3 linked regions of the Homo sapiens genome follow. The main gene of each other region encodes a partner of the protein of the gene in region 2 in a complex. Each region holds a gene or a part of one and is shown on either strand. Other genes may lie near its edges.

Evidence for each region.
Region 1: STRN3 (region 2) and STK24 share a complex: the UniProt entries of both Homo sapiens proteins name them as parts of the core of STRIPAK complex.
Region 3: STRN3 (region 2) and STK25 share a complex: the UniProt entries of both Homo sapiens proteins name them as parts of the core of STRIPAK complex.

The regions. Positions count from the first base shown.
Region 1 is NC_000013.11:98,462,108-98,465,607, reverse strand, and holds part of STK24 (serine/threonine-protein kinase 24 isoform b precursor), read left to right. Parts: intron 1-1,771; coding exon 1,772-1,917; intron 1,918-3,500. UniProt on the Homo sapiens protein: Serine/threonine-protein kinase that acts on both serine and threonine residues and promotes apoptosis in response to stress stimuli and caspase activation.
Region 2 is NC_000014.9:31,016,380-31,019,879, forward strand, and holds part of STRN3 (striatin-3), read right to left. Parts: intron 1-3,500. UniProt on the Homo sapiens protein: Calmodulin-binding scaffolding protein which is the center of the striatin-interacting phosphatase and kinase (STRIPAK) complexes.
Region 3 is NC_000002.12:241,492,170-241,495,377, reverse strand, and holds the end of STK25 (serine/threonine-protein kinase 25), read left to right. Parts: 3' UTR 1-1,252; coding exon of another isoform or gene 1,253-1,370; 3' UTR 1,371-1,929; coding exon of another isoform or gene 1,930-2,085; 3' UTR 2,086-2,341; coding exon of another isoform or gene 2,342-2,449; 3' UTR 2,450-2,708; downstream 2,709-3,208. Other genes in the region: FARP2 (FERM, ARHGEF and pleckstrin domain-containing protein 2), read right to left, coding at 1,253-1,370, 1,934-2,085, 2,342-2,449. UniProt on the Homo sapiens protein: Oxidant stress-activated serine/threonine kinase that may play a role in the response to environmental stress.

The DNA.
Region 1 (3,500 bases), on a different chromosome or scaffold from region 2:
ATGCAACATTTTCTAAGTACGTCTAAGGAGATGCAGGCTGAGACCACCACACCAGTGTTTGATGACTACATCAGCATCGGGTGGTGGTGGGGCTTGTCCTGCATGCCACGATGCTCTGCATTTTATTACACGATGATGTTTCTTGCAGCCATCATGCACCAGCACCAGTGGAGATGTGTGCAGGCATGTCTTCCCATACAAAGCATGTGTCCTGTATGGGCTTATGCCCCAGCACACAGAGCTCCACCCCACAGCTACCGAGGAGCTGGCTGAGAGGCGAGAATATGAGCACCTCCGGGGTAGTTGGGGTTTCACCCTTGGATGGACAGGGAGGGAGAATACTTGAGGTGATCCACGTTTCTCATGAGTTTGAATCTGAAAACATGCTTGGCTCTTGTAATCAAGCTTTTGTAATTTGGAGTGAGTGGGAACTTGGTTCGACTCGGTGTTTGGGTGTTCCTGCTGTCTGTTCCCATTTGGGCCATGCTGGTTTCCTTGGGAAGCACATTCCCTGTCACTATCGCCATCCTCAAGGCAGGCAGCTGACCAGGTGCTGCTTGCGGTGGCCATGCTGAGCCCAGGGCATGGGTGAAGTCCTCAGCCCAATCACAAGGGAAGGGAGGGAGGGACCTGGGAAATAGCCCTTCTAAACCGGGAAAGTTGGTGGTGAAGCGCATCCAGTTGCTCTTTCAGCAGACAGGAAAAAGGGGATCTCCTGGCTCCTTTCCAGTTTCTCTGAGATAATTCCAAATTGACATTTCTATTATATGGTTGGATGTGGCCAAACGTTAATACAGAAAGTTAACAAAGCAGCCCAGCATGGTGGCTCACATCTGTAATCCCAGCACTTTGGGAGGCCGAGGCAGGTGCATCACCTGAGGTCAGGAGTTCAAGACCAGCCTGGCTAACATGGTGAAATCCCGTTTCTACTAAAAATACAAAAAATTAGCCTGGTGTGGTGGTGCAGGCCTGTAATCCCAGCTACCCAGGAGGCTGAGGCAGGAGAATCGTTTGAACTGGGGAGGCGAGGTTGTAGTGAGCCGAAATCGTGCCACTGCACTCCAGCCTGGGCAACAAGAGCAAAACTGTCTCAAAAAAAAAAAAAAAAAAAAGTTAAACAACACAGAACATATATTTTGTCAGCATTTGTCATAAAGTATTTTATAAACTAGGAGATAAGCTTTTTTTTGAGACAGAGTCTTGCTCTGTCGCCCAGGCTGGAGTGCAGTGGCGCGATCTCGGCTCCCTGCAAGCTCCGCCTCCTGGGTTCACGCCATTCTCCTGCCTCAGCCTCCTGAGTAGCTGGGACTACAGGCGCCCACCACCACGCCCGGCTAAATTTTTTTGTATTTTTAGTAAAGACGGGGTTTCACCATGTTAGCCAGGGTGGTCTCGATCTCCTGACCTCGTGATCTGCCCGCCTCGGCCTCCGAAAGTGCTGGGATTACAGGCGTGAGCCACTGCGCCCGACCAGATCATTTAAGCTCTCTTAAATGATCCCTGTGAAGCTCTGTGCAGAGTTTTCTGTGAAAATGTATTTATTAGGGACATCCTTGGAAAGACAGTGCCCTGCCCACCATAGCACCCAGAGCCCAGGCGTAGGTCCTGAGCGACTCGTCTTTGGGTGAGTTGCAGTGAGAAGCGCTGTGGAGTAGAGAGTCCAGCCATCAGGTGTCAGTGTGGCGGTTGACATTTTGAGGCAGAAGTCTGTCCTTTGGGGTAGGACCAAGAACTTCATCTCATACTTTAATTGTTGGGTGTGTTTTTCCAGAGACCCACTGCTAAGGAGTTATTGAAGCACAAGTTTATACTACGCAATGCAAAGAAAACTTCCTACTTGACCGAGCTCATCGACAGGTACAAGAGATGGAAGGCCGAGCAGAGCCATGACGACTCGAGCTCCGAGGATTCCGACGCGTAAGTCGGCCCCTGAGTGACCCAAGCATGTGTGTGGGAGGGATCCGCTGGTCTTTGTCACTGTTTGGTGTGGGTTTCGTTTTCTGTTGAGTTTTTTTTTTTTTTTAGACAATCCAGGTTGGTGGCAATTGTTGTGTTAGACACAGCCTGGGCCTGTTTGGGAGTTGTTTAGCCTCTTGACGTTGCTGGTGGAGTTTCTGCGAGTGAACTCTTGTGGTAGAGCTGTGCATGGGGAACTGGACCTGGCTGTTTCATTCTGTTTTGTTTCGTTCTGTTCTGTTCTGTTTTCCATTAAACTTCCTGTTTGTAAAACCCTGATCAGGTGAAACTGCTTTACATGGATGTCTGAAAGGCCAGAAATGCATGTGTTTGTGATTCTGTATTGTGTCTGGTAGAAGCTTCTGTACCAGGAGTGGCTTACTGAGAATTGCTGTCAAGTTTGGCATCTAGGAATTCCCTTGGCTTAAGAGGCGGAGTGGGGCTGGAGCCATTTGTGTGGGGAGGGCTGGGGGAGGTGGTCGGGCAGACTTGTGTCTGGAAGTCCGAGCGTGGGACTCGTCTGTTCTCGTGCATGCCTTGGCAGAAGTTAAAGTTGGCCCACAGTGCAGGTCCATGTGCCAGGCCAGTTGAATGAGGATTTCCGGGGATGAGACCCTAAGTGGTTTTTCAGGGTCTCTAGGTGATTCCAGTTTAAAGCCAAGGTTGAGACCACTGCCCCCGGAAGTTCTTGAGGTACTGCCATTGGGAGATTGCTGGGGTAGCAACAGGGATGACAAGAGAAAGAGACTGGAGAGAGGTTTGGAGAGCCAGGACGCGGCGGTGGATTTGGGTGAAGGAGGGAAGCCAATGTTCCAGGCTGGGGCAGCGTGGCACCAGGTGTTGTGATGTGTGGTGCGGGAAGCCGAGTGTGGGGTGAACCGTGTGTGAGTCTGAGTTGTCCAGGAGAGACGTCCAGTGTGAAGTGGCACCGAGGTGTGGAGTTCAGGTGAGAAAGCTGGGCAGGTGAAGCGGGCTTAGGGGCCACTGCTCTGTGGAGGTCACTTGAGCCGAGAGAAAAAAGGGTGTCAGTTGGGGCATGTGGGGGAGTGAGGCTGGCCCCTAGGTGTGAGGGTGAGGCTCCGCCTGTGAGTGAGAGGGGAGAGGTATGGCCGAGGGGCGGGAGGAGGTGCAGGCTTAATGGGGCCACAGGCATCAGGGGATGATCAGCAGGGCCTGGGGCTCATTGCCTCTGAGGCCCATACAGGACAGGGAGTGATCAGCACACCATCATCTCATGATGGGGGAGGGAGCGCTCGGAGGGACACGGGTGGGCTTTGGAGCGAGTGGAGGGTACCAAATAGAGGCAGTGAGTGTGAATCCCAGAACCAGGGCTGAGAGATGGCCAAGGTGAGGCCAAAGTGTTGGAATGACAGGCATGAGCCACCACACCCAACACAGGGACATCTGCTTCCCTGGTGAGAGGAGGAGCCCAGCAGAGAGAAGCTGATGTCCCAGAGATGGGCTCCCAGGGAGGTGGGGGAGGTGTTCTCCGGGAGGAGGAGGAGGGTGGGCATGCACACACTGGCACGCCAGGGAGTTGTGGA
Region 2 (3,500 bases):
TCAACCCATAGAAAAGACAAGGAGAAGCCTTAAATACACTGCTACTAAGTGAAAAGGCTACATATTATACGATTCAAACTAAGGCAACCCTCTGTATCCAAGGGTTCCCCATTCACAGATTCAAACAATGGCAAGGCAAAAATATTCCAGAAAAATAATAAAAATATATATATATATATTTTGAGACAGAGTCTCGCTCTGTCGCCCAGGCTAGAGTGCAGTGGCGCGATCTCGACTCACTACAACCTCCGCCTCCCGGGTTAAAGCGATTCTCCTGCCCTCAGCTTCCCAAGTAGCTGGGATTACAGGCACGTGCCAGCACACCTGGCTAACTTTTATATTTTTAGTAGAAACGGCGTTTCACCATATTGGCCAGGCTGGTCTCAAACTCCTGACCTTGTGATCCACCCGCTTTGGCCTCCCAAAGTGCTGGGATTACAGTCATGAGCCACTGCGCCCAGCCAAAAAATAATTTTTAAAAATTATAGCAACTAGCCAGGTGCAGTAGCTGACACCTGTAATCCTAGCACTTTGGGAGGCCAAGGATGGCAGATAGCTTGAGCCCAGAAGCTCAAAACCAGCCTCAGCAACTTAGCAAAACTCTGTCTCTAGAAAAAATACAAAAATTAGCCAGGTGTGGTGGCGGGTGCCTGTAGTCCTAGCTACTCAGGAGGCTGAGGTGGGAGGATCACCTGAACCCAGAGATCAAGGCTGCAGTGAGCAGTGATTGTTTTACTGCACTCCAGCCTGGGTGACAGACTGAGACCCTGTCTCAAATAAAAAGTTTTAAAAAGTGTAACAACTATTTACATAGCATTTAGATTATATAAGTAATCTAGGCCGGGCGCAGTGGCTCACGCCTGTAATCCCAGCACTTTGGGAGGCCAAGGCAGGCAAATCACAAGGTCAGGAGATCGAGACCATCCTGGCTAACAAGGTGAAACCCCGTCTCTACTAAAAATACAAAAAATTAGCCGGGCGTGGTGGCGGGTGCCTGTAGTCCCACCTACTAGGGAGGCTGAGGCAGGAGAATGGCGTGAACCCAGGAGGCAGAGCTTGCAGTGAGCCGAGATCGCGCCACTGCACTCCACCCTGGGCGACGCAGCGAGACTCCGTCTCAAAAAAAAAAAAAAAGTAATCTAGAGATTTAAAATATACAGGAAGATGTGCATAAGTTACAAACTCATTGTATTGAGGGACTTGAGCATCTGAGGATTTTGTATCCTGGAGGAGAACCCCTGGAACAAATTTCCCCCAAGGATACCATGGGAAGGTATATGAATGTATTCTGGAAAAGGCAAAACTTTGGGGTAGGAGACTACTTGTACTTTCTGCTAAATTTTGCTGTGAACCTAAATTGTCTTATGAGGGGCAGTGAGTGTATACACACAAAAGCGAGCATACACAGTTATTTAGGCTGCGCACGGTGGCTCACACCTGAAATCCCAGCACTTTGGGAGGCCAAGGCGGGTGATCACTTGAGGTCAGGAGTTCAAGACCAGCCTGGCCAACATGGTGAAACCCCGTATCTACTAAAAATACAAAATAATTAGCTGGGCATGGTGGTGCATGCCTGTAATCCCAGCTACTCAAGGGGCTGAGGCAGGAGAATTGCTTGAACCTGGGAGGCGGAGGTTACAGTGAGCCGGGATTGCGCCCACTGCACTCCAGCCTGGGCAACAAAATGAAACCCTGCCTCAATTTAAAAAAAAAAAAAAAGGAAATTAATTTAAATAAATTTAAAACCATTTTGTTAAAAAAAAAAAACCTTAATAAAAATATATTTCAGGTCATGGGTAAAGAGTCTCTGTAGTCATGGCAACAGCCGAGGCAGGCTGCCTGCATACCAGCTACCAGTGATGGGGAGAAGCTGCCAGTCTACATCAGCCTGGGCCATAGTAAGCTGCTGCCACGGGGCCAGCAGGGTGGGCACCATGTTGCATTCATCTCTGTACCCCCAGCATCTAGCAGTGTTGGCATGTAGTGGGCACTCAAAGAAATGTGTGTTGAATGAACAATACCTGTGACAAGCAAGCGAACTTTATTCTTTCTCGACCCTTGTTCCTATGACACACCTCCTCCTGACTGTCACCGTCACTCCTTCAGAGCAGAGCTTCTCTAGGGAACTTGGATGCGAAACAACTATGGTAAAGGACATCCTGGCTGAAGAGGGACTGCACTTTGATGAGTTGAACAAGCTGTGGGTGTTGGACTCAGAGGTTACCCAGCAGACCACAGAGCTCAAAGAAGAGTGCAAGAACTTTGCGGACAAAACTGGCCAGTTTCAGAAAACAGTTGGTGGTTTAATTGAGCTTGTTGATAAACTTGCAAAAAAAGCGTAAAATGCGAAGATGAGGGCCATGGTGCTCCGAACTTGCTCAAATCAATAGCAAAGCAGAGAGAAGCTCAACAACTTCAGAACTCAGTAACTTCAAGCACTAATAGAATAAAAGAAAATTTAGGCAGGGCATAGTGGCTCACACCTGTAATCCCAGCATTTTGGGAGGCCAGGGTGGGCAGATCACCTGAGGTCGGGAGTTTGAGACCAGACTGGCCAATATGGTGAAACCCCATCCCTACTAAAATTCAAAAAATTAGTCGGGCATGGTGGCACACCTATAATCCCAGCTACTCTGGAGGCTGAGGCATGCCAGGCATAGTGGCTCATGCCTTTAATCCCAGCACTCCTGAGATGCCAAGGTAGGAGGACTACTTGAGGCCATGATCTCAAGACCAGCCTAGACAACATAGAAAGACCCTGTCTCTACTAAAAAAAAAATTAGCCAGGCGTGGTAGCACGTGCCTATAGTCCAAGCTATTTGGGAGGCTGAAGTGGGAGGACTATTTGAACCCAAGAGTTTTGAGGCTGCAGTGAGCTACGATCGCACCACTGCATTCCAGCCTGTGCAACATAGTGAGACCCTGTCTCTTAAAAATAAATAAAATAATAGAAAATAATAATTTGGAATGGACAATGAATGGATAGAAGTACAGGTAAAACAAGACTGATCATGAGTCGTTGCTGTTTAAGATGAGTGACACGTTTGTGGGAGGTCACAATACTATATTATTTTCTTACATGTTTGAAACTTTTCATAAAAAAATTAAAGGAGGGTTATATATAATACAATTGTCTTTATGATAAAAAGGATAAACTGTTAAGAGGGGCAATGGATGAAACAAACCTGTCAGGAGATTATCTCAAAGAATTCTGGCAGGAGGAGTACTCTGAACTAAGGCAGTATTAGTACAGAAACAAAAAGCACAGATTGAATCAGTTACTTCCTTAGATCAGCAGTCAGGCTTCATGGGCATTCTAAGCAAAATTTTCTTACCTTTTTTGAAAAAAAACTAGAAGAGGCTCCACAGCATTCATAATATATGCAAAGGGGACTATACAATCCCCCAAAAAATCAAGCATCAGTGAATTAGAATATACTTTAGGATACTGATGTTACCTATATTACTTAGCCTTTTGAATCATTATAGTCCAGTTCACT
Region 3 (3,208 bases), on a different chromosome or scaffold from region 2:
TGAGCTACGCCTGGGTCTTCTGCAGACTCATGCAGCCCTATGGCCGCTCAGACCAAGGCGCAGAGCAACTATCAGGGCAGCTCTGCCTCCTCCTCCCATGAGGTGGGGAGAGGCAACAGGGCAGCCCCCAGAGGAGTGTCCTGGCCGCTGTCCTCCCGGGGCCCATGATGGCCATAGATTTGCCTTGTGGTGTTGGATCAGGTACTGTGTCTGCTCATAAGTACTTGTGTCATCCAGAATGTTTTGTTTTTTAAGAAAATTGAATTACTTGTTTCCTGAAATATTCTGAGGTTAATATGTTAGTTTTCATAGAACATTGAGAGGCCCCTGCCACTTTCAATAAAGACCTGACTTGGAGACATGCAGGTGTGTGTGGTGGGGCCCGGGCCATGCGGGGCTGCAGCGTCCCTGGTCCCGAGTCCTCATCACAGCACGCAGAGACGGCAGCCCAGCCCCCCTTCGAAACTTCCCTGTGACGGATTCCTGGGCTCTGCTTGGCCCACCGGAAGAACAGAGCAGGCAGAGGAGAATGCAGGTGGGGAGATGCTGTTTGTTTATTTTTAATCAAATGTGTGTGAACAAAGCAGTCGCCCATCTACTTCCCGTTGGAAGGAATGCTGGGCAGTAATAAATTAGACGGCCCCACCCTCCCAGGGCACAGGGGGACTTTGGTTTCTGCTTCTCTAGAGGTACATGGGGAACAAGCGTGGCTTCTGCCAGACTTGTTTAGCTGTGACCTGCAGGGCAGGCCCCTGGGGCTGCCACTTGGTTCACCAGATGGAAGGTCAGCATGGCTGTGCCACGCTTGTCTGAGAGGGTCCTGGCAGTGGGTACGCAGGGTGTATGGCAGGGCCTCTTTTCCAGTGCTTGCTCTAGGCCAGTCCTCGGCAGGGACCCTGCTCTGGGGAGAGAGGCAGGGTGTGCCCAGGCTTTGGTCCGATGCCGAGAGCACTGCTCAGGCCTTGTCTGCGTCTTTGAGCCAGGGGCCTGGGAGCTGTGGCTTGAGCGGCTCCGCGCTCAAGACTCGCACATTTTTCCCAGGGCCCCAGATAGCTGCTGGCATGCACTAGGTCCTGGGTGGGGGGATGAAGCCCCTCCCAGATGTTACATGAGGCCCACCCACACTGCTGGTGCCAGTGGGGATCCAGTGAGACCACAGCCACTTCCCATCTGTTGAGAAGCCTCAGGACAGAGGTCACCTCTGTGTCCTGCTGTTCTTTGTAGTTGTGTCCAAACCTGGGCAGGTTGAGCGTCATTCCTCCTTCCCCCTGACCATCCCCTCCAGCCCTGAGGAGGGTTGGGGGCCATCCTGCACGATGCTTGGGGCCCTCCCGGCTGAGCTGCTGGCCCCCTGGATCACCTCCATCCACCTGGAGGAGAGGGCGGCCATCAGACCAGTGAGCCATCTTGTGCTCAGACACTGTCCCAAGAACAACCCAGGATATGGGACAAGCAGGACAAAAGAAGGGTTAAAAACCTGGGGCCGGGTGCGGTGGCTCATGCCTATAATCCCAGCACTTTGGGAGGCTGAGGCAGATGGATCACTTGAGGTCAGGAGTTCGAGACCAGCCTGGCCAACATGGTGAAACCCTGTCTCTACTAAAAATACAAAAATTAGCCAGGCGGCGTGGCGTGCATGCCTGTAATCTCAGTTACTCAGGAGGCTGAGGCAGAAGAATCGCTTGAACCCTGGAGGTGCAGGTTATAGTGAGCCAAGATTGTATCACTGCACTCCAGCCTGAGTGACAGAGGGAGACGCCATCTCCAAAAAAAAAAAAAACAAAGCATTGCTGTTTTTTGGAAATGCTGGAAGCATTGCTCAGCCCTTCCTTTCCAGGGCCCAGAAAACTTGCCTCCACCACCATGAGTAGAAATGGGAGCTGAGCGGACATCGAAATGGGCAGCTGACCAGGGCTGCCTCCTGCAAAATTACCTTTCAAATGTGTACTTGCTCTCAGCCCGGAAGAAGTAGACGTGGGATTTGAACTGGAGCTTGAAAACATAGTCTTTGTGTATGCCATCGGCCTCCCTGGGGATGCTCACGCTGTAGCCCAGCAGCGGGAGGCTGGCCAGTGGGTAGTCATCCTGCAAGACAGCATAGGGACACGGGTTCCAGGGGCTGGGTTGCCACAGGGAATGCCCATTCCTCTGCTACCTGCACAACGGTGGCACGTACAAATGCCCACGGGCCAAGGGAGCCAGTTTCCCTGTTCACACAGCACAGGGTGTGTGGGCAAAGCATGGGAGGGCAGAACCAAAATACAAAAGGGACACAGGTGAGCAGGGTTAAGTGTCTGTCTGCTAGCATCACCTGCATTGGGCTCCAGTGAAACTCCAGTACCTGATGAGTTTTGTAGAAGAACAAACAGAAGTTGGTAAAGACGACCCAGAGCTTCTGCCAGCCATGACTGTTTTTGAACTTTCTTAGCAGATATCCTGAAAGCTGGTTCTGTCAATAAAGGAAAAATGCAGGTGCATTAACCAGCACCCAGGACCCCTTGTGGGAGTGGGTTTGCTCCCCAAGACTAAGCCTCTGCATGCTTTCTCCAGCTGAGGCCTTGGTTTTACCTCTGGACTGCTATGAACAGCAGCTTTATCAGTACTTAAGTCCAACAGAAGCATGTTAAAAACCTAGAGTGACATTCCAGGCACCAAGTAAAGTGAGTTCCCTTTCCCTGTGCACAATAAAGTCAGTGTTCAGTAACCAACCATCCACAAACCCATCCAACAGCCAGAAGAGAGAAGATACCTTAAGAGACAGTACATTGAGCCAAGTCTGGAAGGTTCTTTAAAATGATGGGTGGGGGAGAGGCAAGTAAAGGCACACACAAGATGCCCCACTGCAGCCCTGTCCCTAAGCATGTGGCATCTGTTCTGCCAGGATTAGGCATGGCTTTGGCGCTGGAGTGGCTGGGCTCATGGGGCTCACATGAGCCTCCCGCCTTCAGGGTGGTATTCAGGGGTTGCACTCTAAGATGGCGGAGCGGGCCTAGCTAGGACCCTGCTTAGATCTCAGGTGTCCTGGACTGGCCATAAGCTGGTGGGCCCAGGTCAGGGACCTGCTGCACCCTGACCTACCCAGGGTCATCAGGGGAGAGGCTCGGGCTCAGCCCCCTCACGGGGGTGCTGGGGTAGCTCCTGAGCCCCTGCCCAGCCGATTGTGGCTGGGGTGAATTATGGGGAGACAGCAAAAAAGACAAGAGCTCTG